Regions from separate parts of the Homo sapiens genome. Here region 2 is linked to region 1. The links come from fine-mapping of genetic effects on gene expression. A gene starts in region 1. The other region holds a variant in brackets. All regions are shown on one strand. Distances are between the middles of the regions.

What was found. PIP is the estimated chance that this variant, and not a neighbour inherited with it, causes the effect.
Region 2: its variant is fine-mapped to the expression of SPSB4 in testis (GTEx, PIP 0.98).

The regions. Positions count from the first base shown.
Region 1 is chr3:141,044,666-141,055,920 of GRCh38, reverse strand. SPSB4 (splA/ryanodine receptor domain and SOCS box containing 4) reads right to left here and starts at 4,574. Exons shown (of 3, transcript NM_080862.3): 1 at 3,929-4,574.
Region 2 is chr3:141,142,112-141,153,366 of GRCh38, reverse strand. It overlaps SPSB4 (splA/ryanodine receptor domain and SOCS box containing 4), which reads right to left. Exons shown (of 3, transcript NM_080862.3): 3 at 4,756-6,225. The coding sequence ends at 6,098. Among named protein-coding and RNA genes, the nearest start is that of PXYLP1, 84 kb to the left of the region's middle. The variant G/T (reference allele first, on the strand shown) is at 5,481.

The sequences.
Region 1 (11,255 bases):
AAGACCTACCTACTAGAAGCCCCTGGTCAGCCCTGCCTGGGTGTTGTTTCAAATGACCTTGTAAGGCCAGCTGACCTCTTTCCATCATAAGCCTCCTACCATGGGCACACCCACACTCTCAGCCCTGCGGGACATCTGTGGTCCATGTGCACCTCGGAATCTGCAGGTCCTAGGCTGAGCCTGGCCTCTTCCCTCTCTCACATGCCAGGTTCCTCTGCATGTCACTGTTCCTGCCATGGATCCCGTCTCTTGGTCCCCACCACTCAACCCCGTCAGCTTTCCCCTAGTTCAGAACTTGCCTGGATTACTCCACTGGTCTCTTAGCAGGCTTCCCTGACTCCACTGTTTGCCCGCCAACCCACTCTCCATGCTGCCAACAGGTAAGTTGGACCAAGACACCCACCAATCTCTTCATTCAACCCTCCAGGCAGCTTCTCCAGAGAGAAGCTGCACCTCTTTGCTTGGCACCCAGGGGCCCTCCAGGCTGCTCTTATTTCTTCCACACTGTCTGTCATCACGGCCCACCTCAGACCAGTCATGCCAGACTCTCCTCGTCAGCACATCCTGGGACTCTTCCCATCTTCTCTGACCTGGCTGACATTCTCTCACTCCCCTGCCCCTTCTAGCAGAAGCAGAACTGGGCACCCCTCCGTGGCAGCCCCTCAGCCCACTACATCCTCTTCCCTCCGCCCCATTATGTCCTCTTGCCTACGTCCCACTGCACCCTCTGCCCTCCAACCCACTTTGTCTTCATCTTAGCTGTTGATTCCTGCTGCTATCTCTTGCACCACATCTGCATTTCTTAATGGAGCCAGTGCCCAACCAGCCTTTATCTCCAATACTCGTACACAGCCTTGTACCTGTTACCTCTGGCTGCATTAAGACGTGCTTGTCAGACTGAAGAAGGACTAGCCACTCTATACCTCCTGCATGGTTTGCATTTTTTTTTTTTTTTTGAGACGGAGTCTCGCTCTGTTGCCCAGGCTGGAGTGCAGTGGTGCCATCTCGGCTCACTGCAAGCTCTGCGTCCCAGGTTCATGCCATTCTCCTGCCTCAGCCTCCCCAGCAGCTGGGACTACAGGCGCAAGCCGCCACGCCGGGCTAATTTTTTGTATTTTTAGTAGAGACGGGGTTTCACTGTGTTAGCCAGGATAGTCTCGATCTCCTGACCTTGCGATCCCCCCGCCTCGGCCTCCCAAAGTGCTGGGATTACGGGCATGAACCACCACACGTATACATTTTAAATGGAGTAAGTTCTGAACTCAATGTGTGAAGCAAAAATCACATGCAATCAACACTGCTTAGGAAAGTTCTTCTAAAGTTCCACACAAAGTTCATGATAACTGGTTTGAGGTATACCACCTCTTTCCCAAAGGGCACACCACCCACAACTGTTTTTCCTATAGCCTCAAAACAAATCCCTATTTCTTGAACTGATCAGCAGCAAATAAATTAGTTGGCTTATGTAGGAACCATGTTTTATTAAAAACGTGTTGCTGGTTTAAAAATTTTTTATAGTTGATCTTTTCTTACCACAGATGGTCATGTTCACATAAATCAAGAGTACATACTATGTACTTATATAGTACATATATAGGCAGAGACTTCTGGTGACCTCCATCTACGGCCTGCCACTCCCCTGATTTTCATGCCCAAGACCCTTCACTCCTGTATCAACAGAGAAAAAACCTTTCTAGAGCATGGATGTGTGACAACAGGTCGGGCAGCTCAGGGGAAATTAAGTAACTCCTGTATGGTGAGTTGTACTAGGTCTTTCCCCAAAAGGGCAAGGAATTCTGCACTGGCCACTGTGGCTTGGCCACTTTCTGGGATAGAAATGAAGCCCTTCCAAGGACAGTTCTACGTAAATGATGAGGAAGTTTCAGTTGTATGAAAAACTAGGAGGAAAAGTATTCTAGGCAGGGGAACAGCAAGTGAATGAGCCTTTGGAGTGTTGGAGTAAAAGGAAGAAGGCTAGGAGGGTGGGTAGTGGGGGAGAGGAAAATGGTGAGGAAGAGGTGGAGAAGGGCAGTACCAGACCTGAGGACCCCTGGGATCATCTAGATTTTACTCTGTGGCAGCCTTAAGGAGGTCCTGAGCTAGGGAGAAATGTGATCTACATTTTTAAAAGATGCTTCTGATAAATGGTTATGACTACTTGCTAATTTGATACATTAAAAAAAAATCTTGTAATTTTAACTTGCATTTTTCGTATTGAGGTAAGGTATCTTGTCATATGTTTTGGTATCATTTCTATTTTATTTCGCATGTATGAATCGTGTCTTTGCCCATTTGATCTTTTGTTTGTTGACCTCAGGAATCTCTTACATATTTAAAGAGATGAGCCTGTTGTGATAGGAGTGGTATATGTCATATGTGACAGTTTGTCATATATCTTTTGACTGTTTCTGGTGATTTCTTTTCCTTGCAGATTTTATTTTTATATCATTAAATATATCTTTAAAATAAACGAGAAATACAAACTGGAGAGATATTTGGGTAGAAGGTCCAGTAAGTTGAATTTTGTTTGTGATTTGCCAAAGGTGGCTTAAATTCTTTTCATTACCATTTTTAAAAATGGAATAAATTAGAGGGTATGTGTCTCAGAGGAATATGCCCTTGGGTAAAGGATGTTTATATCATGCTTTTACACATTTTACGTCTTCCAGACTTAAGCTCATCAAATTGCGCGGGTGGGGGGCAGGGGGCCAGAAAGGGGGTGGGAGGATAGAGGGCTCAGAGTCTGAGAGAAAGGAACTCCTATCTTCATCCCCCAACCCCCCAAGGAGGAGAGTGGGGCGCAGAAGAGGAAACCAAGCGGGGGGAGGTTAGAGAACTTGCCCAAGGTCACACCGCGAGCTGGTGGTGGAGACAGATTCGAACCCAAGCCTGACTCCAGAACTGAGAACTCTCCACCTTCTCGCGACAGCGGTACAGAAAAGTGCCCTCCTCTCCTTCCTGCCGGCAGCCGTCTGCGCTTGGCCATGGGCCGGCGGGAGCAGCCACTCCCCCGGTTCTCCCGCCAGTCAGAGGTCGGGGGCTCGGCGTCCCCTTCTGGCTTGGAGCCCCTGGCGCGTACAGAGCGACCAGGGCGGACACATTTGCCGCGCTCAAGTCTCTGACCCCCTCCCTCCTTCCCAGAGCCCTGCGCCTAGGGTTTCCTGAGCTCCCAACCCCCTCCCTTCCCGAGCATAGACAAGTTTGTATTCAAGCAAGGCCAGGACTGGTCCCTGAGTCGCTCTCGGGCCAGGCGACCAGCCTCACTGCCCCAGAGTCAGGAATAAACGGTAACAACAGCCACCGGTGCCTATTGCGTGACCCGTGCTTTACTTCCACCTCTCCGAATACCCCGGACGAACAGACCCCCAGGAATTATTGTCCCCATTACACGGACGACGGAACTGCTGCAGCTTCGGAAAGTTGGATAACAAGCTTGGGCTCGCAAAGCTAATAATAATACTAGCTAACATATGATTGAGTGTTTCCTGTGTGCCCAGCACATGTCTACCTACGAACACCATCCCATAGATCTTTCCAATACCCCTATAAAATGTGCACAATTATCATTCCCATCCTACGGATGAGGAAACAGGTTTGGCGCCCTGTCCAAGGTCACTCAGCCAGTGAGTGACGGATCCTGGATCCAAACCAAAGCGGGTGAATCGGATGGCAGTTTTTTGTGCGTTGTCCGCTACGCAGAGAAGCAAAGGGCTTAGAACCCATGATACCAAAGGCCGGGCCCCAAACGCCCCAGGGCTGCGCGCAAATCAACCATCTCGAACTGCCACAACCTGCAGAGAGGAATTCTCAGGGACTGGGACGTCAGGAGCGCCAGCTGTGTCGAGTGCTGGCCCGCACAAAGTCCGTGCAGCCGGATCTCGGCTCCCGGCCCCCGCGCGCCCCTCACCAGGAGCTGGAGAGTACTTACCATAAAAGAGAGGGCAAGCGCCTGTTCGGGAAGAATCCCCAGCGCTGGCAGGTCCTGGACTCCCTGGAGAGGGGTCTGCTGCCGCCGCCGCCCACTCAGGGGCGCCCGAGTGACCCGCAAATGCCGGCTCTCTCCGCACGGCCAGGGGCGCGTCCTCACGGCTGATGCCCGGCAGCAGCGCCCCCTCTGCGCTGCAGGATGGCCTGGAGTTAGGAGCGTTCTTGGCGAAGTTGGCGCTCAGGCGCCGGGGGTCGGGCCTGGAGTGGGGAAGCGCCTTACTGAAGCGATCCTGGGGGCGCTCCAAGGCCCGCGCTCTAGCCGCTTGGAAGCTTGGCGCCTGACCCGGAGGGCGACGAGTCCCGCGCTCAGGGCGCACGGGCCGCGCCTCGGCCGCTGGCCCCCGGCGCGCCGGGCGTCTTCCCCAGCGCCCTGAGCGCACGCAGCGGTAGCAGCAGCTGGGGCCCGGGCCCGGGATGTGGTGTGTTCATCGCCCTCCCCTGGGGCTGGGTGCTTTTGTGCGCGGGGCGCGCCGGCCGCCACGGCCAGCTCTGGATGCTGCAGCCGCCGCCGCCTCCCCCTCCTCCGCCGCCGCCGCCCGCTCCCCGCCTTCCCGGCCGGCCCGGAGGCTGCAGCTGAAAGCCGATCTGGCTGAGCTCATCCCTGAAGGCCACTAATCCAATAGCCGCGGAAGGCGCGGTCGCCGGGAACGCCCCTTCCCCCACCATCCCGCGCCCCGGCCGTCCCAGCTCGGGCCGCTGCCGGCGCCGCCACCTTCTCGAGGCCACCAGCTGGCGGGAGAGGGAAGTGGAGCCCGCGCCCGCGCCCCTGTGCCAAGGCGGCGGCGCGGTCGCCATTCACTCACCCGCCCACTCGCCCGCTCACTCCCTAGCTCTCGCATTCATTCCTGCGCGCGGGTCCTCCCGGATTCATTCAAGCGCTCCTGGAGCGCCAGGGTGGGTGCCCCTGACGGGGAGGAGACACCCAGTCACTAGGCAGCTTTGGTGCCTTTACTCAACGCACGTGGGAAATAGCAGCCAGGAGGAAAAAAGGGTGGTTTATTATCCCCCTTCCTCAGACACACACGTCCACACTTTATTTTTGAGATCAGGCTCCAACTCATCTCTTAAAGTCCAATTTCATACCGCACCTGCTCAAGGAGCGTTCCCCGCCCACCCGAGGCGCAGGAAGTCGGTCTCTTTGCTCTACCAGCGCTGATGGTGGGCCGCCTCATTGGGAGCCTGAACTGAGCGATGGGGTAAAGGGCGTGGCCAAAACAGAAGCCTCGAGGGTGCTTCTGGTATCTGCGCTTCCTTGGGGAAATTGAAAGTTCTTGGTTTGGTGGCCCTCGTCTGTGCTCCCAGAATTGACTTTAGGTCCATTACGCAGTCATTTGCTAACCCAATCCCTCTCTGTGCCAGGTACCAGGCAGAGTCTAGATGCAGACAGAGTCTAGATGCAGACAGAGTCTAGATGCAGAGTGCGCATTTCATCAAGGACATGGAAAACAAGTAAAGACAATCCAACTCTATGAAGGAAACGTTTTGAGAGAGGTTCTGGGGCGAATTTGTCAGACTGGAAAGGGCAACTGGGAATGTTTCCTAGTAAATGTGTCTACATGAATTAGCTCCTGGAGGCAGGGGTACAACATGGTCACCTGGAGAGCTACCTATCACAGCACAGAGCCTGTGCTATGAGCAGAGGGGGTATGACGGAACTGGAGGGATGGACGGTGTCTAGGGTCTTGGGTGGAGACTGTATCAAGAGCTTGACCTTCCCCATCACTTTGGGAGGCCTTTAACCAGGGTAGTGACCTTGTCGGATTTGCATTCCAGAAAGACCTCTTAGCAGCCAACTGGATGGATGGATGGAGGAAACCAGGTTGGCAGCTACTGTAATAGTCTAAGCATAAGATGATGCTTTATGAACCAAGATAACCATGATGAGGTGACAAAAGTGTGTATTGACACGTATTTATTGTACTTATTCTAACGTTTCATCACTGTCTGTTTGCATGTCTGCCCCTCCTAAAACTGTGAGCCCCCCCTGGAGGGCAAGTATAGGTACCTCACACATCTCTGGATGCCCTGCACCAGCATAGGATAGATGCTGAGGACAGTGAATGTGATTTGAACTGCCCTAAGTGGCAGTGCTGACCTACATTCACACTTGGTGTCTTTCCTTCCTACCTCCTATTGACAAGCTCCTGGAGCACCTCTACTGTGAGCTACTGTGGGGGTTATGGATGTGGTTGGGGAGCAAGAAAAGAAAATTTGTGGAAAGAAGCTCAGAAGCAAAGGAAAGTTTAAAGCAGACGTTCATGCTGATGGTTTCTCTACCCATCTGGCTGACAGGCTGGGTGTGTGTGTGGAGGATGCCCGTTGCTTCCACTCGGTGCTGGGAAGCATCACAGTAGCTTCAAGGATAAGGGAGGGAGGGAGCAGTGGCCACAATTTGAGAAAACAACTCCCCCCCTCCCTTGGGGGCTCCAGTTAGGTTCACCACACTGGCCTTTCCCAATGAGATTATGCCCCAGGCACAAAGGAGTGGGCCAAAACAGGGCCCCCTTGTGTCCCTGTAGACCCCCAAATCCTCCAGCCTCTGGATAACAAGGGAAACAACTTGCCATTTGGGGAGAAGCCAGGATAGCCTGGCTACTAAAATTCTTTAGATTGAGATCAGCAGCTTCTAAATGGCCCCCAGTGATCCCTGACTCCTGGTATATACTCCCTTGTGTAAACCCTTTCCCTTAAAGTGTGGGCTAGACTTACTGACTTGCTTCTCACTAACAGAATACAGCAGAGGTAATGGGATGTTCCTTCCAATATTAGGTTATAAGAAGACTGTGGCTTCTGTTTTGAGCATACACTCTTGCTCTCTTTTGGGATCACCTCTCTGGAGAAGCCAGCTGCTATATCCTGCAGTGGCACTGTGGAGAGAGGCCCATATGGTGAGTGACTGAGACCTACCGATAACCACATGAGTGAACTTGGGAGCAGATCTCTGCCCCGCCGAGCTGAGCCCTTCATAGGACAATACAGCCCTGTGTGATGCCTTGACTGCAACCTCATGAGAGATCGTGAATCACCGAAACCAACTACCTGTGCTTAGATTTCTGATGCATGGAAACTGTAAGATAATAAATGTTTGTTGTTTTAATCAGCTAAATGTTGGAGTAATTTGTTATTCAGCAGTAGGTAACTAATGCAAGATGTTCTTAACTGTCCAAGAGTGAGTCTAAAAATGCAACCGTGAAAAACTAGCCACAGTATTGCTCTAAAGAATGTACAGTATTGCATGGGCATAGTCAGACAGCTCTGGGCTTAAATCTCAATTCCAAGCCTTTGGGTCCTAGCTTTCTCATTTCTAAACAGGAACAGAAGAATGTCCCTAGAGTACAGTTGTGGGTTGTAGCTTGTCGTGTAGTCGGTGCACAATAAATCTTTTTCCTTCTACTTCTCAGGAGTAGACCAAGATCTGTAGCATTCGTGGGATTCTTGGACTAAGGCAAAGTAATGCCTGGGGCAGAAGGTCCAGTAGGGAGCTGCTGCAGTCAGGGGTCCAGAACCCCTTGGATAAAGCAAAGCTCTGAACCTCACTCCTCCTGCCTTTGCTCCCACAAGGAATGGTATTCGGTCTACTTCCCAGTTTTTAGCTATTGAAATCTCGGACTCCTTCTCTGTCTTGTAAAAGTATTAACCATGGTTTTACAGAAGTTGGAGGAAAAACTTTCAGTTCTGAGAAATTTTGGAGCTTGCAGCTTGCTCCAAGGAGGTCTGTGGCAAGACAGAACTGTGTTGTGTGAGGTTTGAATGTCCTCTGCCCACCCCTCAGGAGCAACCCTGTTTGAGCCCAGCCTGCCATGCAGCATTGTCCATCAGGTGCTCAGCTCTCAAATTCTGTTCCTCTTTACAGCCCAAGCATCACCATCTCTTTCCCTAGCAGTTATAGCGGCCCCCTCACCTCTACTGCTGGGCTCTCTTCATGAAGGAAAAATCACCCTTGCCACTCCCTTCAGAGGTACCCCATGGTCCACAGCATAATTTTCATGCTTTTTCATGGAATCTGGCTCCCTGCCTACTCATCTAGTTTCACCTCCTCTCATTTGCGCTCTGGGCCAGGCCACACTGGGGCCCCCTGAGCTCCTCCATGCTCTTTCTCCCTGCCACAGGCCATTGTAGGTGCTTACCTTTCTTCCTGGTACAGACTTTCCAGGTAACTCTAATTCATACTTCGTCTCTCTGCTTGTATACATGTCATCTCCTCCAGGAAGCCTTCCCAACACTGCAGGCACAGCACGGTGCCCTCCTATGTGCATCTCAAGCCTGTGCTTGCCTCTCTCACAACCCCAAGTCCCACTGTTGTGACCTCCTTTCTTGTCCCTCACCCCAAGATATGAGCACTTCAAGGGCAAGGCTGTCTTTTTCATTTTTATAGCTGTTACACCCCCAACCACATTTTCTTCTTGCTAATTTCTCAAAGCAGAAAGCTCCACAGTCTTCCCAAATAGCCCAGGCTGGATTAAGGGCCCCTTCTGTAAGCCCTACCACACCTTGTTGCTTTACATCTGTCATAGCACCTTGAAAACATTTGGGGAATTGTCAGACTCTTGCATCACATGGTGACTCTGTAGGGCAGGACTGTGTCTGATTCATCCCAGTGTTCCTAGTTCTCAGCCTGGGGCATGGTATACAGTCGACAAACAGTAGATGTTTGTGGAATAATTAAAGGTAAAGGAAAAGAAAAGAAAGACAGGCAGGCAGGGAGGAAGGGAGGGAGGAAAAAAGGAAGAAAGGCCAGCTCCATTGGCTTCTCTCTCTCCCTCTCTATTTCTGTCTTCCATTTAGGTATTGAATGATCAGAATTGAATTAATCATAATCCTTGATCATGACACATTGTCAACATTAGCCCAAGTATGGGACTTATTAATTCATGTATTTATTCATAACATGATGAACACACATGAACCCACTATTGAACCCAAGACCTAGAACATTTCCAACACCTACATCTTCCCGGGTGCTCCTTTCCTAGCCCATCTTTTTGCCTCTCCTTCACACAAAAACACTATCCTGATTTTTTTTTTAGATGGAGTCTTGCTCTGTCACCCAGGCTGGAGTGCAGTGGCACCATCTCAGCTCACTGCAACCTCCACCTCCCAGGTTCAAGCAATTCTCTGCCTCAGTCTCCCGAGTAGCTGGAATTACAGGCTCCTGCCACCATGCCTGGCTAATTTTTTGTGTTTTTAGTAGAGATGGAGTTTCACCATTTTGGCCAGGCTGGTCTTGAACTCCTGACCTCGTGATCCACCCATCTCAGCCTCCCAAAGTGCTGGGATTACAGGCGTGAGCCACTGCGCCTGGCCACTATCCTGATTTTTATGGTTTATCATTTCCTTGGATTTAAAAATACATGTAACATGAATTTATTTAGCTTTACTTGCTTTTTGAACTTTATTAAAAGGTACTATACTATATATCATTTTCTAGGAATTGCCATTGGACTTAACAAGATTCATCCATGTTGATGCATGTAACAGTATCTCATTCATTTTCATGGCTCTATAATAGTTCATTGGGTGAACATACACAATTAATTTTTCCATTCTCCTTCCATAGGTGTTCAGATTGGTTTTATTTTGGAGCTACTATAAACAGTGCTGCTATGAACATTTCTGAACAGGTTCCCTGGTGGATCTGTGCTAATGTTTTCTTGGGTCTTTTCATAGGAGTGGAATCATTGTGTCTTGTCCTCTTCATCACTGTCTAGCATGGGTCAGCCTATTCAAATGCAGGGCTAAAAATTTTTCAATCTAGCCACAAAACAGGGAGGGCTGTAGGTACCAAAAGTAATTTGCATCATTCACAGGAGACAAAAATGTTTGACCAAGGGATACCCAGCTCCATTTCCTTGGAATGATTTGCATGCAAGTAAGTGATTTGCATACTGACAGGGCTTCAGATTCCAGGCCATTCCATTCCCTGCCCCATTCCCCTTTACTTCTTAGATAATTAGACCTAGTGGGGCCCAGAAGTCTCAGCCTCCCAGGAGGACTCTGGAAAAGACCTGAGTTAGTCTGCAGTAGGAAAGAAGACAGGTGAGGCTCAGTGACAGATATCCAAATATATCCAGTGGTCATCGAATTTTGTGTAGGACAAGATATTAAGGACATACACACACACGCACGGAGGCCTGGAGAGTTCTGCTATAAAATGACTTGGTACCCTGGGAGGAAGCTTCAAGATGGGCATGGCAGATCATGGCAGGGTTGCACGTACCACAGAATCTTTAGCTTTTAATTGATTTCTATAATCCTCATTTTTCTCTTATATGAAATGGGGGCAATAACATTTACCACATAAAATTGTAAAGATGAAAGGAGGTTATGTATATGAGGGCTTGGCAAATGTTTGTTCTTTGGGCTGTGGTCTTACACAAGTTACTAAATGTCTAGGAAATTTCAGTTTCCAATTTGTAAAATGGAACTAATAAGAGTACTTTCCTCTATTGGCATTTGTTACTTTTGGACCTTGAGCAGCTGAATTCCCCTGCCTAAGCTGGGGAATTCCCCACCGTATTACTCTAGGTAGGAAGCAGAGTCACTTCGCAGTAATGGCCAAAAAGCCCAGCATTCAGTCATGACATGATGCTCAAAATCTTTTGAAAACCCTCTTCACAATTTGTTTTTGGTAAATTCAGATAAACAAAACTCTTTCATTTCCTAGCCTCCCTTGCCACTGGATGTGTCAGGGGCATTTGAACCAGAGCAACTCCATCTTAGATAGGGGCTGGGTAAAATGAGAATGAGATCTGTGGGGCTGCATTTCCAGGAGGTTAGGCATGTTTAGACACAGGATGAGATAGGAGGTTGACACAAGATACATGTCACAAAGACCCAGTTGATAAAACAGGATGCAGTAAAGAAGCTGGCCAAAACCCACCAAATCTAAGATGGTGATGAAAGTGACCTCTGGTCATCCTCGCTGCTCATTATACACTGATTATAATGCATTAGCATGCTAAAAGTCACTCCCATAAGTGCTACGACAGTTTACAAATGCCATGACAATGTCCAGAAGTTACCCTATATGGTCTAAGAAGGAGAGGAACCCACAGTTCCAGGAAATCCCCACCCCTTTCCCAAAAAACTCATGAATAATCCACTCCTTGTTTAGCATATGATCAAGAAATAGCCATAAAAATAGTCAACCAGCAGCCCTCAGGGCTGCTCTGCCTATGAAGTAGTCATTCTTTTGTTTCTTTACTTCTCTAATAAACTTGATTTCACTATACTTTATGGACTTGCCCCAAATTCTTTCTTGCCCAAGA
Region 2 (11,255 bases), 97 kb before region 1:
TCCCCCGAGCCACCCCATGTAGCTTCTCCTCTGTTGTCTGGGATTCCTCAACACTCCCCACCACACTCTATGCTCTCTACACTCCAGCACTTGTTTCTGTTGTGCCTTCTCTCCACTGGCCTGCTGCCCATCCTGTCAGCAGGCAGTTGACACCTGTTTGCCTGTTGGTCTCCCTGAGGTGTAGGGGCGCTCTCGGGCAGCAGGAGTGTTCTTGAGCTTGCACAGAGCTTGGTACAGAGCCATTTGTTGAATCAGGCAAGTAACAGGCAACTCTTTTTTTTTTTAAATGCCATCACTGTGCAGCAAATCATCAACATATTATCTCCCTTGAATGGAAATCCCCAGGCATAGGAACAGTGTTACTGAGGCCCCTGGAGCTGGTTGGAAGAAGGGAAATGACCTACCCTGATCCTCCTCCATGGACTAACTGGGCTGCACTCACCCAGTACCAGGCCTCCTCCCAGGGAAAGAGCCCTGCTTATTGAAGAGGCAGAGCAGCTGGGGACACTAACACTGCCATCAAGCCAGGCTTGGCTTGTTCATGGCTCATTTTACTCTAAAACCTAGAAGTGTGTGTGTGAAGGGCATAATTTTATAATTATAACTATATAATTTATAAATACAAATATAAATATAAATTATAATTATAATGATAAGCATATAATTTATAATTATAATTTATTATTTATTATTGGCCAAATGTGTTACCTGGCCTTAAGAAAGCAAGGTTTGGAAATGCCAGGAACCAAACCACTCACTATCTCAAATTCTCATAAGCTCAAATTTTTCTATTCAAAATAGTACATTGAAGACCAAGCCATTCTCAGTCTGCTCTTCACTTCTAATTCTACGGTTATTCTGATTGCTCAGGACAATGCTGTCTGGGAAGACTGCCCCACAGCTTGGGCCTCACAGGTCAGGGAGCGAGTGGGGCTGCAGTCAATTTGTCAAGAATTGTGCAGCATCAGGGCAGGTGTGGCTGGTCCTTTCTCCCCCATGCTCAGGAGCAACCAGCTCGGCATCGCTGGAAAGGGGGAAGAAGGGCTGGGAGGGACTCCCTGCCTTTGGACCTGGCCACACTGGGGACTCCCACCACTCAGTATCCCGTCGGCTGTGGGAATGCAGGGAGCCTGGGCCAGCGTTTTCTGGTCTAGGATGTGCATTCTCACAAACGTCAACCACCTCTTCAAGGAGCTGACTTAATTAAGCGCCTTATCCAGTGGTTCTCAGCCCTAGTTGAGCATTAGAACCATCTAGGGAGCTTTAAAAACTGCCATGGCCCGGCCCTACCCACAGAGGTCCTGATTTAATTGGACTGAAGAAGGGCCTGTACACTGGGCCTTTTTACAAAGTTCCTCAAGGGATTCTAATGTGCAGCCAGGCTGTCTAATCATGTCACCCAGCTCATTACAAATAGGCCCTGAGAATTCTTGTCCTTGTCCTCTAGGAGTTCACCATCTAGCCAGGAACACCTGGGTTTCTCTGGTGTCTGAGTAAAGATCCTGGGCATCTGTGAGCTCCTTGAATATTGGTGGCTGAGGCTGGAGAGACTTCAAAGTCAAGTGCAGAGCTAGCAGACTCTCCCCTCCTGAGCCCTCCCTCTGTCGTGGGTGTGTGTGTGTGCACGCGTGTGTGTGTATGTGTGTGCACGCCTACGTGTGGGTACTTACTACCCACTTATGTGTCTTATACCAATAGTCCAGAGAAGCAAACTCAGAAGCCTTAGCCCAGACGCAGGGAGTGAACGCCCTTGAGGGTGGCGGCAGTGAGAGGTCCCAGTGCTATGTTGTGGGAGGGTTGGACGTAGGGCTGGACCACAGAGCAGAGGCCTTTCCTTTACTCAGCTTTGGCCAACCTCACCATGAAGGAATGTGGGCCTGGCTTTAACACCTCTCCCCATTTTTCAAGAGAAGTCTGAAATCTGGATTTTTCTATTAAATTACTTGATTTTTCTTTGTTAGGCTCAATTTTATTAAAACACACGCGCGCGCACACACACACACACACACACACACACACACACACACACACACACACACAAGTATGATAACAAAACAAATCTGTAGGCTGGAATGAGATCCAAGCACCCAGAACTATAGGCAAGAGTGGACCAATTTTCTTGTGTTTTGGACTAAAACTGGGCATTTCCACTCCTTGTTAGGGACCTGAAGAGTAATGCTGTGTGGTTCCCTGTTCTTCTGACTTGGCAAATATGCGCCGCCTGTTCAGAGGCTGTGGCTGGGACCAAGGCCCTGGGGACAGAGACAGCTGCCCTGGCACAAATCAACTGCCATATAATGGGGTTACTTGCTACCTGCTCCCACTTCTTCTGTAACACTGTAAGGAGATGAAATGTTTGTTTCCTAGTGAAAGATAACCCACACAGGAGCCAGCTGCTAGTGCAGATGACAGAGGAGGAAAGCAAGGGAAAAAGGGTGGCTTTACTCAGAATATGGGAATGTCAAATGGGGTAGAGTGAAACAGGGTGCTCATGGGGATCATCAGATCTGTGGGGGACGGTGCCACCATATGCTCTATTCGTAGACAATTACAAAGTGACTAGCGAGACTGCTTTGGCAAGTCCCCCTGCTGGAAATGGGTCGTGGAGAGGCCAAACTTTAGAGAATGTGCCAAGCATGGGAGGGGGCTGGGCCCGGGTTATAATGGACTCTGGCGCTGGGGGGTGGTCATGAGCTCCCAGGATGTCTGCTGGGGAGAGGCCCTTGGTCGTGTGTGTGTCTGTGTGTGGGTGCACTTGCATGCCTGCAGGGAGCACAATTGCACAAGCAAGCCTGGAGGTGTGTGGGGCTCACACACACAGGGATGCTGAGCTGCGGCTTGGGCAGGAGTGGCAGCACAGGGGCTTCCTTTCCTCAGCTCAACTCATTGGGGCTCGGGAGTTCCCACTTTGAGAAGGTTGGGAGAGCCAGAAGTCCCCCCATGACCTGGAGATCCACGCCCTTTCAGGTATTTGGCTCCCTCTCATTTCTTCAGTACTCAGCATCTTCCCAGAGGGCCTCCCCCCATCACCCTCAATTACTGGGTCCCTTTTGCTCCCTGGCTCTAGCCTACCCGCTGCTCATCTCCGCCCTCTGACATCATCTGTTTCTTTGCTTGTGTGTCCTGTCTCTCCCTTAGAATGTGAGCTCTGATATGGCAGGGCCAGATTTCCTTATTCATGTTCTCATAATAGTGCTGAGTGCATGAAAAATGCCTTATAAATACCTGGGAAAAGGTGAGGGAATGAAAGGGCAAGAGATCCGTGAGCCTCAAGGCCAGGTTCTTGGCTCTGGGAGGATCCTCCCTTCCCCGCTCCTCCTTGCAGTTTCCCATGGTCATCCCAGCTGCAGGGGCACCTTCACCCACCACTCCATCTTTGCTGAGCCCATGTGTCTGGTCTGGGCTGTGTGGGAAGGAGCAGGCAGAGGCCCTGCCCGTCAAAGGTCCACAGCTCCCTGGGCAGGTGAGACCACAGGGCAAAGGAGCTCAAGTCCCTGTGCTCAGGAGAGGGTCCTGGGCCCCAGGAGTGGCATCCTCAGGTCAGGACATGAAGAGCTGAATTCTCAGAAGAAGCAGAGATGGGGGGAGTGGTTAAAGAGGGCTTCCTCAAGGAAGCCACGCTAAGCCAGATCCTTGAGAGGGTAAAGATGGGGAGGACATTGTTAGGGTGAGGGAAACCACATAAGTGAGGCTTGGAAGCCGAGATAAGACAGATGCATCCAAGCTGGAAAGCTGGTGCTGAGATGGGGACTCCATGAGCTGGGAGAGGAAGAGTTCCCAGTTACTGGCTACCTGGCTCAGCCAGCACAGTGTGCACAGAAGGAAGTGACTTCCCCAAGGTCATAGCACATAAACGATGAAGCTGGGACTCAAACCCAGGCTTCCTACACACAAAGCCTCAAAGCCTCCATGTCATGGCCACAGGAAGCTGCCTTTGGCAAACAAAATGACTGAAAGCTGCCTGATGCGGAGCCCAGCCCCGAGGTCAGAGCTGGAAACATTACCCTGGGGGCAGGTGCTGCAAGTTTGGTCTCTTGGTGGTCCTCAGGAAGCTTGTCTGCCCTTAAAATAACAAGTCTGGAGAGTGCCTCTTCCTCCAGGAAGCCTTCCCTTCATATTCTATTCTCATCCACCCCTCTTCATGAGCTCCTTCTCACTTTATTATGCTGTACTACACATCTCTGGAGATGAGATATATCAGCCTGGGCGCTGGGTCCCTGGAAATTGGCACAGCGCATGCTGTTGGCTGGTACTGCTGAATGAATGCTATTCCAGTCCTTACCCAGACCCTATCCTGACTCTAACTCCTGAACTGCTATCAGCTCTGAGCCTGGCCTTTCTTTACACTCATGCTTCAACAATTTGCACTGCTCCTTGGTGACAACATGCATTCACTACAGTCACATCCAGCCCCACCTCCAGTCCACTTGGAAACTGGTGTTCCATAGGGTTTGCCCTGCCTGACCCTAAGCCCCTTTGCAGGGCTACCCCTTGGCTCTGGCAACAGGAGGCTGAGTTGTTTCTCCACCATAAGGTCAGCTTTGCATGTACCCAGGACACAGGCACATTCTCTTGTCCAGGGCAGGCCTTTGCAAAATAGCTGGAGTTTGGGCTCAAGCAAGGACCACAAGTCAGAAGAGACAAGAAATGTCTAAAGAGGGATTCACGTGCCTGGCTTCTATCAGTCTGACGGACCAGGCAGGTTGATGGAAGAAGCTCTCTGGGTCCCTCCCCAAACAACATTTAATACGCAGCTGAAGGACTGAATGACAAACTTTATTAGAAACGCTCTTCATTCATCAGTCAAATTCACATTAAGGTGGGGGCAGTGGGGTGGGGAGGAAGAGGCAGTGCTGTCTGGGGCTCTGATATCCCACTGCTGTGATGATTTCCAGTTAAAAATGAGTCTGGGCAGAGAGTGTCTGAAACATATAAGAGGTGGCAGCAGCAGTGGCGGCGGAGGCAGCAGCAGCATTCCTGCGAGAGGACCAGGCTCGGAGCAGGTAGAGAATGTGTCTCCCATATCCACCCTTCCAGTCACAAGGCTGCCCCCATGGACCTCAAGCTGATAAATAAACAGCACATCACACACACATTTGAAACAGGAAACAAACTTGTAGAAGTCTCCTAAAGTGAAAAAATAATTTGCTCAAATAAAGCTTTGTGACAGCCATGCCGCACCCTGAATGGACGTTGCCCAGAGACCCTGACACTCCAGGAAGGCCCCCCAACCCAGGACACATCAGACTTGGGTGTCACAATGCCCCCAGTTCCCCCGTTAGCACCTTTGGACTAAGTACTGTCCTCTCCGCATTCCTCTTTTAAAATGCAAATGCTACTTAAAATAATGGTAAGGATATGCTCTTCCCTGGGGCAAACCAGTCAGACTCATCTTCCCTGAAGAGAGGTGTCTGGGCATCCAGAGAACTGTGAGTCAGTGGCTGGGAAGGGGAGCACGTGGAAAGGGGTAGGTAAACAAC[G/T]TTCAAAGAGGTAAGCCGGAAGGTGTCTCCACACTGCACTGTCCACTTGCCAGGTCTGCGGTTGGGCCTCCTGGGAACAGTCTCTCAAAGTGGCACAGAGTCCTAAAACGGTGTGACAATCCTGCCGCCCTGGCAAGGCGTATGGGCCAGGAGGGGCACGGCGTCAGGCTTTCATCATTCATTATTCAGAGGCAATTTTCCCCCTGCACTGGCTAATTTCTCCCTGGCCCTGTCTGCAACGGGGCACACAATAGAAAGTCTCCTGCCTAAATGTTTTATTCATTCTCTTGAATAAGGAAACAGGCTCTCTGATCAATACGGTGGCTGCTGTGTCCTGGTTGGTGGCAGGATTTCCAGGAGGTGCAGACTCCAGGCTCTCTGTGGCTCCGAAGGAGGTGTCTGACTTGGGAGGGCTGCCTCGAGGGCAGTAGATACTGTTGGCAAGAGACCTTTCGTTTCCAAAGTTGGTACCACATCCTGGTCTTTGAAAGAACTGAGTGTCCTGGGGAGCCAGGAGAAGGGTAGATCCTTTCCCCTATGTGCCATGGGACTGTGAATGACAGGAGGGTCGGGCCCTGCGGTGTGTGTCTGTGTCTGTGCTGCCCATCAGGCTTGGCTCACTGGTACTGCAGATAGTTTTTGAGAGACTGAGGCAGGGGCAGGGAGCTGATGTCCTGCAGGCGCTGGCGGCCCAGGGCCGAGCGGATGGATCTCCGGCACAGGTCCATCAGTGGCAGGGGCTCGGCTGCAATGAGAGGGAAGCAGTTAGAGTGTGCCCTGTGCCATCCTGGCACCTTCTCATCCCAGCCCCCACTGCATACCGCCTCCTGCCTGCTCCTCTGAGCTGGCCTTCAGGGTCAATGGCTTCTCCTTGGAGAAGATTTCTCTGGTTACATAAGCTGAAGGCCTAGAGGAGTGTTCATTAGACTGTGGAATGCAACCAGTGAGACTAAAGAGTCACAAAATCAATTCAATGGGTGGTGACCAGCCATAATTTTTTTTAAAAAAAGAGAAAATGGGAGCAATACCCATAGCAAGGATAAATATTGTTTCATGAAAGCCTTGTCTCTGGTCTCTGATGTAGGTGTTCAGCGTGTCTTTTTTTTTTTTTTTTAGATGGAGTCTTGCTCTGTCGCCCAGGCTGGAGTGCAGTGGCACAATCTGGGCTCACTGCAAGCTCCGCCTCCTGGGTTCACGCCATTCTCCTGCCTCAGCCTCCCTAGTAGCTGGGACTACAGGCACCCGCCACCAGCCCGGCTAATTTTTTGTATTTTTAGTAGAGACGGGCTTTCACTGTGTTAGCCAGGATGGTCTCGATCTCCTGACCTCGTGATCGCCCTTCTCGGCCTCCCAAAGTGCTGGGATTACAGGCGTGAGCCACCGCGCCCGGCCTGGTGTGTCTTAATGTGAAAAGGACTTCTCACTTCAGGTCATGATGGAAAATGTTTAAAAGCTGGTGGCCTTGGGTGGATCTGCAGAGGGGTTTCCTCTACAAACAGGTTAGATTCTGAGAGGCTGTCTGAAATGCCTGTGAACCCTGAAACTTCCCCTATAGCTTTCCTTGATGGTCAGCAGCGGGTTACATTTTCTTCCAGCACCTAGTTCTGGAAAAATTTGTAAGTTAAAATCCATAAATAATGGAACCACTGGACATAGGACCAGTTAAACCAACTTTAACTAGGTTTATTGCAGACCCCCTTATTAAGCTCTTATTCTGGTCCAGGCCCTTTGATTAGCCCTGGGGATACAGGGATAACTAAGCTAGCACCAGAGGCAGCTCTGGAAGAGGGTGGGGGCAGGTAGGGGGGTGGTGGAGGCTCATGATCTGGGATTTTAAATAGGTGAATCATTTTAATAGAGTGTAATATATGCAATAATTCTTAAATATACAGGTACAGAAACTGGGAATTTCTTATATAGAAGAGCTGTTTGAAAGCTTCACAGAGAGGACACATAATGGGGTTTTGAAGAGTGAATAGGAGGGTTAAAGGCACATAAGGGTGGGGAGGGTATCCTAGGCAGAGAGAACAGGCAAAGGCAAAGGAGGAATAAAACAGGACAGCCTGGAGGTTTGTGGGGAGAGGAACAGTGCTGATCAGTTAGCATCAGCTGGAAGGAAGATGATGATGGTGGTCACATGGCATCTGGTATGGTTTGTACAGGCCTGGTTTCCCCAGTCCTCCAGGAGTATGCTGGAAGCCTGAACCTGCATCTTAATACTTTTTTGGTAATAGAATAAATGATATTTCATAAACATCCTATAATGTACTAAGATACAACAAAACTGTTGAGTGGTAAATACTAACACAAGAGTTGTGATAGGAATAGTACCACAGAGAAAGGCCCTCTACAGATCCACCCGAGGCCTGCAGCTTTCAAACATTTTTTTATCACAACCTGCAGTGAAGTACTTTTTACATGGGAATGTAGTCAAGAGTCGAGAATATGTTTTATAGGAATTTTTATTTACCTGAGCTGCAGAGTTAATAAGGGGAGCCATTAAAATTAAAGTGGGGCTTGGGGAGCATGCTTTGGAAGCTGTGCACAAGAGTACATCCAGCTCTCCTTCACTTGAGGCCAGATCCCAAGGCTATCTGCAGGGAGCACTAGTGACTCCAAACACTCACCTCTGTATCCTCTTTTTTATCTTTTTTTTTTTTTAATTTTTTGTATTCTCTTTTTAAAATAATTATTATTTTTATTGTATAATTCCACTTGTACAAAATCTTCAGAATAGTCAAATATGGAGACAGTATATCGATCCTCATACAAAATGAGGCTGGACAGGGGAAGCCCAGCCATGCCCTATTTTCCAGGTGCAGAAGGCTGATCGCTCACCTCCCAGTCACCCAATCACTGTGCCTAGGCCAACATTTGACAACCCTCCCTCAGGGTGTCCCCATCTCTCCTCCAGCAACACCCTTGTACCCAGTTCTCCCACTCCCTGTCCCCCATCTGGCATCAGGAAAACTGAGCTGTTAAAATTTCAAAATCATTGGCAGACCTTAAGAGATTTTCTTATCACTTTAATGCCCTAGGCACATAATAGGTATTCAACGCCCAAAATGCTTAGCCTTGTCAGCAAACCCAACTCCCTGTGTGTTGCCTGCCCAATTAGGGGCTGAAGAGGACAGAATGTCTTTTATCTTCATCTCTCTGCAGTCACTGAAATCAATCTAGATTCTAAATTCCAAAGGAAGAAGGAAAAGGAGTTCAGAGTACGTTGCTAGCTCTAAATGTGAAATATAAATCATCTCTCCGAACTTCTGAGGGGAGAGTAAACTGACAATTCCAAAGTGCACAGAGAAAGTCCTTGAGTTCCTGCCCCCACTGTGGAACTTTAAGAGCTCGGAGAGTGCCCAACGTTGGCTGCGCCCATTCTCTTGGCTCTTCTTTCTCACCTCTCCTGGCTTTGAGGCTTTTCTTAGAACTACCAAATGTCAAAGCTTGGAAATAATCACCTGGATAGGAAAGGAAGCACAGAATTTTCCAGTATGGGAGCTATTCTTAGAACTATTTTTTGACTAAAGATAAAACCGAAAAAGAATCATTGTTCATAAAGGTGAATATCCAAATGGCCAATAAACATATGTAAAAGTGCTCAACTTCATGAATCATCAGGAAAGTAGAAATTAATACCATAATATGACTCTGCCACATACCAACAAGGAAGACTAAAATGATGATATCCTCTTTCCTGTGATGCCTGGGACTGAAGTCTGGAGTGATGAAGACGTCTGATAGGATCTGCTTAGAAGTTGTCAAATATTTAGCCAAAATTCAGAGTTAACTGCATAGCTTGTCCTCCAATCCAGGTTTGCTCAAACAGCTGTGGTGATTCAAAGATTGTCTATGCAGACTCAACTGATGAACAAATAAATGTCCCTGACACTGTTAGGAGCTATTAATTTGGTCTTTTCTAAAAATAGGCTTTTCTTCTACTTTTTATTGTCTACTTACATTTATATATTAATGTAAAAATGAGGACTCATATGTTTGTCTACTTCTAAATTTTTATTCATTCTGTAACTCTCAGATGTAATTAAAATAACATAATGAAAAGAAGGAGCAGGCCACTGCAAATTCTGTGAAACAGGAAAAAAACTCTGGTGCTCTCTTGAAAGCACCACCTCCTGGCTGGAGGCCAACCAACTCAGGACATTACAGCAACTCATGACAGAACAACCTTGCTCCAAGGAAGGAGAAACAGGAGTTAATTCCACTGCATGCCAAATCCTGGCTAGCAAGTGGGTCCCAAGTCTGTCCATATTACAATCTCACTGCTAGCATAACCAGCATTAGAGAAAGCCAGCACACTAAACATCTATAACCAAAGACTCTCACAGAGTCTACTTCACTCCCCTGCCACCTCCACCAGAGCAGGTGCTGGTATCCACAGCTGGGAGACCTGAAGACAGATCCCATCATAGGACTCTTTGCAAACATCTCCCAGCACCAGCCAAGAGCCTGGTAGCCCCACTGCATGGTTAGACCCAGAAGAGCAATACCAATCTTTGCAGTCCAGCTCTCAGGTAGCCCCGTCCCTAGGGGAAGCAGGAGAGTACCACATCAAGGTGAATAAAAATCCACCAACCAAGTATCTGCTGTCTTCAAGAGACTCACCTAGCACACAAGAACTCACATAAACTTAAGGTAAAGTGGGGAAAGAGATATTCCATGCAAATGGAAACCAGAAGCAAGCAAGAGTAGCGATTCTTATAACAGACAAAACAGGTTTTAAAGCAACAACAGTTTAAAAAGACAAAGAGGGGGCCAAGCGTGGTGGCTCAGACCTGTAATCCCAGCACTTTGGGTGGCCAAGGTGGGCAGATCACAAAGTCAGGAGATGGAGACCATCCTGGCTAACACGGTGAAACCCCATTTCTACTAAAAACACAAAAAATTAGCTGGGCGTGGTGGCGGGTGCCTGTAGTCCCAGCTACTCGGGAGGCTGAGGCAGGAGAATGGTGTGAACCTGGGAGGTGGAACTTGCAATGAGCTGAGATCATGCCACTGCACTCCAGGCTGGGTGACAGAGCGAGACTCTGTCTCAAAAAAAAAAAAAAAAAAAAAAAAAAAAAAAGACAAAGAGGGACATTATATCATAATGAAAGGATCACTCCAAGAGGAAAATATCACAATCCTAAATATATATGTACCTAACACAGGAGCTCCCAAATTTATAAAACAATTATGACTAGACATAAGAAATGAGATAGACAACTACACAATAGTGGGGGACTTCAATGCTCCACTGACAGCACTAGACAGTTCACCAAGACAGAGTCAACAAAGAAACAATGGAGTTCAACTATACCCTAGAACAAATGGACTTAACAAATATTTACAGAACATTCTACCCAACAACTGCAGAATATACATTCTTTTCTTCAGCCCATGGGACATTCTCCAAGATAGACAACATGATAGGCCACAAAACAAGTCTCAATAAATTTAAGAAAATCAAACTTATATCAAGTATCCTCTCAGACCACAGTGGAATAAAATTGGAAATTAACTCCAAAAGGAACCATCAAAACTATACAAATACATGGAAATTAAATAATCTGCTCTTGAATGATCTTTGGGTCAACAATGAAATCAAGATGGAAATGTAAAATTTCTTTGAATGGAACGATAATAGTGACACAACTTACAAAAACCTCTTGGATACAGTCAAAGCAGTGCTAAGAGGAAAGTTCATAGCATTAAATGCTTACATCAAAAAGCTGAAAGAACATGAATAGACAATCTAAGGTCATACCTCAAGGAACT